Linked DNA regions of Homo sapiens. The protein of the gene in region 1 purifies or fractionates together with the protein of each later gene. This does not show direct contact. Each region holds a gene or a part of one and is shown in the gene's direction. Other genes may lie near its edges.

Region 1 (2,426 bases):
GCAGTGGTGTTCTGAAGAGTAGGCATGGATGCACAAAGGTGGTCTTTGTGAAAGGCAGAGATCATTCTGGTTGGGAGGCAGAAAAGGGAGGATGAGGGAAGGCTCGTACATGGGACAGAGCTTAGGTGATGAAGATGCTGTGTTAACCACCATTTTGTAATTATTAATGTGGACCTGGGCATCCAAGTGGCAGTACCCAGCAGCAGGCGGTTAAAAAGCAATTCCTGGGCTGGGCACGGTGGCTCACACCTGTAATCCCAGCACTTTGGGAGGCTGAGGCGGGCGGATCACAAGGTCAGGAGATCGAGACCATCCTGGCTAACACGGTTAAACCCTGTCTCTACTAAAAAGTACAAAAAATTAGCTGGGCGTGGTGGCGGGTGCCTGTAATCCCAGCTACTCGGGAGGCTGAGGCAGGAGAATGGCGTGAACCCAGGAGGCAGAGTTTGCAGTGAGCCGAGATTGCACCACTGCATTCCAGCCTGGGAGACAGCAAGACTTCGTGTAAAAAAAATAAATAAATAAAAAGCAATTTCTGGCTGGGCACAGTGGCTCATACCTGTAACCCCAGCACTTTGGGAGGCCAAGGTGGGCCAATCACTTGAGCCCAGAATTTCGAGACCAGCCTGGGCAACATGGAGAAACCCCCAGGTACTCGGGAGGCTGAGTTGGGAGAATCACCTGAGCCTGGGAAGTCAAGGCTGCAGTGACCCACGATTGCATGATTGCACCACTGCACTCCAGCCTGGGTGACAGGAGTGAGACCCTGTGTCAAAAAAAAAAAAAAAAAACCCACAATGTCTGAAATGCAGGAGAAATCGTGTGCAGAAGTAAAGCAGCAGGATTCATAATTTTGCTGGGGTAAACCCTAAGGCAGTTATTTTGTTAAATTCCAGAATTCCTTAACTCTGTTGTAGAGTAGCAGATCAGTTCCCAGGAGGTGTGACTGTGGATGTAGAATGTTAGGTTTTTTAACAGCTAGACTCCCAAGACTGTTAGATAGGGAGTCAGTGGTCAGAGTCTCACTTTGGACACATTAGTTTGAGGAGCCGTGGTCAGAGTCTCACTTTGGACACATTAGTTCGTTGGCTGCTGTTAAAAAACATTAAAAGGCAGTGGTCTCTCCTGGTCAGGCTTAGAATGGAGGTGTGCGGAGCAAGGCGGGAAACTTGCCTGACTGAGCAGGGAGGCACTCAGACACCATCACACATCTGGCACACAGGCTTTTCAACACTGAGGAGCAGCCCTGCCTAAGCTGCGGGCTGGTGGAGTGGGTCAGGCCCAGCCAGGGAAGAACACTCATCACCTAGCAGCCTGGGGCATAGCACGAACAGTGAAGCTCCTGGTTGACCCTGAACCACTGGCCAGGCTCAAGGCGGGATACCCAGAGTGGTGACAAGCCTTTTCTCTTGCAGAGTTATTCCCAGAACCTGTGTCTTTTGGCCAAGTGTTTCCTTGACCATAAGACACTGTACTATGACACAGACCCTTTCCTCTTCTACGTCATGACAGAGTATGACTGTAAGGGCTTCCACATCGTGGGCTACTTCTCCAAGGTCAGTGCCTGCCCAAGCTGTCCCTGTGCCCTGTCCTGAGCCAGATCCCTTCCCTGACACTCACCTGTCCCCCTTCTCCAGGAGAAAGAATCAACGGAAGACTACAATGTGGCCTGCATCCTAACCCTGCCTCCCTACCAGCGCCGGGGCTACGGCAAGCTGCTGATCGAGTTCAGTGAGTATGTGTGCTGCGGCCAGGGGGTAGTGGACCCACTATCGGTGCCTCACAGGCAGATGGGCCAGGCTACTGTGATTCTCAACCCTGGCTGTGCAGCCCAGCCTCTAGGGGAACCAGCCAGAAATAACAGTGGCACTCTCCCGGGGTTCTCTCCGTTCAGGCTGACTGCCCTGCTTATCTGGGGTAGGTTCTCAGCCCCCCAGTTTGCTCCTTGGCCAGGGTTCTAAGTGCCACTCAGCTTTCCCCAAATCTGACTTACGTGCTCCTGCCTGGAGCCATGGGCAGAAGGTTAGTGAGCCGCTGGTGCTGATGTATCTGGTAACGTGTGCCATGATACGAGTACTGGGGCAAGGACCAGTGGCTAATGTCCCCAGTTGTCCCCTGAGCCTTGCAGGCAGGTATCCAAAATGCTGTCAGCAGATAGACATAAGCATGTTGTCCCTCGCTCCTTGTGTCCAGTGAGGTCAGTCTCTTAAAGCCAGAAGGGACTCTGAACTTCATCACACATGGGCTCTTCAGTGCCCTCCCCAACCCTGAGGCCCCTTCTTCCCAGCCTCTTACTCCCCATCACCCCCCATTCTGTCTGTCTCACCACTCACTTGGAATAACCAAGCTCTGACCTGAGAAACAAGGAGGAAGTTCTAGCTGTTGACCTGGTGAAGACACAGAGGCTTTACCTGATCAAGGTTATG
Region 2 (3,500 bases), on another chromosome or scaffold:
GCCTCTCAAGTAGTTGGGACTACAGGCACGTGCCACTATGCCCAGCTAATTTTTGTATTTTTAGTAGAGACGAGGTTTCACCGTGTTGGCCAAAATGATTTCGATCTCTTGACTCTTGCTCCACCTGCCTCGGCCTCCCGAAGTGCTGGGATTGCAGGCGTGAGCCACCGTGCCCTGCCGCGCCTTGCAATTTTTTTATTAGCTCTTTTAGAAAGAATTATTTTCAAACTAGAGCATGAGTGCTAAACTTGGATACTTTTCAGTAGCCTACTTCAATTGCCCAATTTTAAGGAAGAAGAAATCCAAATTCTGATAAAACTAGAGTTGAAACCCAGAACCTCTGATTCTTTGTCCTGTCCTTTCTGCCTCTTTAATACATGCTAAAAGTGGAGATTCTTAAAATCAAAATTAAGCAAACCGTAACAGTTAAGATTTATAGTCTGAAATCTTTTGCTTCCCAGAGTGTCCAATTGGAGTATTAGTTTTTCTTTTTCTTTCTTTTTTAAATATGTATGTCAGAAGACTTGTGTTTTCATGAGTGACAGCAAATTCATTTCTCTGGTCTTACAGGACTTCTGTTATTAAACAGAATTATGTATTTATAAAAATGGTTCTGCCTTGATAAATATTTCTAAGCAGCAGTAAAATGTCATACATTTCACAAATGTTTTGTGTTTCACTTGAATTGCATTTTAAGTAACTTTCAATATCTAGATGTCCTTAACTCCTTATTTTTATAAGATTTTTTTCTTTTAAATCAGTAGGCTTGTAACAAACAAACCAACCTTGGCTTACGGATTCACAATTGTTGCTGGGTGTCTCTGAACTGTGCTGTCCTGCTTGGTTGGCAAAATCTTTTGAAGCCTTCATGGATGGCTTTTTCCCATTCCCCCTCTATCCCCACCCACCCTTAAAATTAAGGCCTGTCTCTTCTGTGTAGCTATTGGACTATCATTAGACTTCGTTTATATAAACAAAGTCATTATTCAAGTTCGAGTTACATTCTGACTGAGTTACATTCTGACAATGCCTGGATGAGGTGATTTAGGTGTTCTTGGGCATTGGTAACATTGTATCATTGATAATCATGTCATCCTGTGTAGCCTCTTCTTTTGGACATCCAAACATCTTTTACTTCTTTTCTTCCCTATCCTTATTATCATTGTCCTCTGCTAAGAGCTGCCAGTTGGCATCCTCCTTTAACTTGGTCTTTGTAATGCTCCTCACGGCACTTGGTCTAGGTCAAGTACTGTACACTTATGTTTATTTAGAATTTAGACCAGAAAGATCAGGCAGCCAGCGGTTCTGCCGCCTCCCCATGAGTGTTGTATAGTGGTAGTTGATGTTTTTACTAATACTTGCCATTTACTGAATACTTCATATATCCGAGATACTGTGTTAAGGGCTTTACATATATTATTTCATTTAATCCTTTTTTTAAATAAACTTTTTTTGAAGTATACTTTACATACAAAAAAAGTACCTATATACAGTGTGGAGTTTGATGAATTTTGACAAATGCATACAAACATGAAAACAAGATATAGAACATTTCCAACATTGGAGAAGTTCCCTTGTGCTCCTTTGCAACCAGTCCCTTTCCACTCCTAGTCCAAGCAATTGTTGATTTGTTTTGTTTTACTGTAGATTAGGTTGCCTTTTCTACAATTTCATATAAATGGAATCATACATACTTTTTTATGTCTAGCTTCCTTTGTTCCGTACGATGCATTTAAGATTCATCCTTGTTGTATGAGTCTGTTCCTTTATATTGCTGAGTAGTATTCCAGTGAATTTGGTATGCTATCTTTATGCATCTCTCTGATTTTTTAGTTGTTTCCAGTTTTTGATTATCATTTAATTCTGGTAACAGCCCTGTGAGGTATTACCATTTCTGTTTTATAGAGGAAAAGCTGAAAGGTCTTGCTGCTAGTGCAGGGCTGAAATTCAGACCCTTGACATTGGTGTCACAAAAGCATATACTCATAGTCACCATGCTGCATATTCAGGGTTCTTACAGAATCCAGAGTTATCTTCTGAACTGTGATTAAGTTCATTATAGCTTTTGTAAATAATATTTTACTTTTTATAACTTTGGAAACCTTAGAAGTTGCCAATTTGGTTAGACTGTTAAATTATTAAGAAGTGTAGTTTTTTCATTACTTAATTTGGTCTGACTTTTGCTCTTGGGTTTTCAGATTTTCTTTCTTTTTTCTTAGCAGTTTGTGAACTTTGCTTTCCCCTGTATTGGCACCATTATATTTATCCCACTGTTTATGTTATCTTAAGCATATAAGAAATTTGTGGGAAACTGTCCCATTTTATTGTTTAGATTTTTCTCCTGCTAGGATATAATGTCTCTAAGGGCAAAGATCTTTGCTTATTTTGCTCATTAATATATTCCAAGTGCCTGGAACTGTGCCTGGCACATAATACATGCTTGCAAAATGTTTGTTGAGTGTTGAATGGGCTTCTATTTCTTTTTCTGTTCCAAGAGCTATATTTGTGTCTTTTCTCCCCCTCCCCCAATATCTATCTATATATAAAATTTATTAGCAGCATTTGATAAAGTCTTCTTCCAGGAATTCTTTTTGGTTGCTTACTTTGGTACTATGTATATCTAAATATTATATCCTCTTTTCCTCTTGAGTCAGAGGCCTCTTTAAATATAGAATCTTTTCACACGCCGATATGGTTGTAATGATAAATCTTTATCTTGTTTTAAGTAACTCTCATAGGTGTGTGTAGATTTCTGTGAGATACTTTTTCATACCAGAATGTACCAGTCTACATGAATCATGTGATTCACCTTATTTTTAAAGAAGATCCATGACTAATTTGAATTGCCATATCTCCTCTCATATGTTGTCTAATTTTTGCCGTTATGTTAATATTTTAAGTGATATTTTGAATTGATACAGTAGGAATATAATCCTGATTGATACCTTTTCAGAATTACTATTGGCACTAATATATTTCATGTTTCATAATGGAGAGGGTATAAAATGCAGTTTTGTAAGTTGATACTGTAAAAACATGAAGCATTTCTTCTTCTAACAAAAGCAAATGACATGCCAGGTATTATCTAAATGCCAGTTGTTATCTAAATAAGATATTGGGAAACTAAAGTGTTCTGTATAGGAAAAGTATGTGTAAGGCCGTGTACTGAAATGTTAGGAATAAAAGAAGATGCAGACTTCAATTTCATAGAACTTAAATGAACCATTAAGTCCAAAAACATGTATCTGGAAAGTTAGCAAAAACTACAGGGTTAAGACAACCTGACAGACATCAAAAGAGCATTAGAGAAAGTTAAATGTTAGTGTAGTTGAGAGGCATGAGGTGATTCATTGCATGTCATAAAGAAGGCTTCTTGGAGAGAGGCGTAACAATTTGGGCTTTCAGGTTTGGTTGTATGGTGTATGTTGAAGCAAATATTTGAGCATAAGAATATCTAAAGGAAGTTCTGAGGATGCTGAGTAGACCAAAGGAAGGTTCTT

Evidence for each region.
Region 2: the proteins of KAT5 (region 1) and EPC2 purify together in Homo sapiens (affinity purification with mass spectrometry; 5 studies listed by BioGRID and IntAct, with this or other methods). This does not show direct contact.

What each region holds. Positions count from the first base shown.
Region 1 is NC_000011.10:65,715,252-65,717,677, forward strand, and holds part of KAT5 (histone acetyltransferase KAT5), read left to right. Parts: intron 1-1,415; coding exon 1,416-1,556; intron 1,557-1,637; coding exon 1,638-1,731; coding exon of another isoform or gene 1,732-1,735; intron 1,736-2,421; exon of another isoform or gene 2,422-2,426. UniProt on the Homo sapiens protein: Catalytic subunit of the NuA4 histone acetyltransferase complex, a multiprotein complex involved in transcriptional activation of select genes principally by acetylation of nucleosomal histones H2A and H4.
Region 2 is NC_000002.12:148,647,751-148,651,250, forward strand, and holds part of EPC2 (enhancer of polycomb homolog 2), read left to right. Parts: intron 1-3,500. UniProt on the Homo sapiens protein: May play a role in transcription or DNA repair.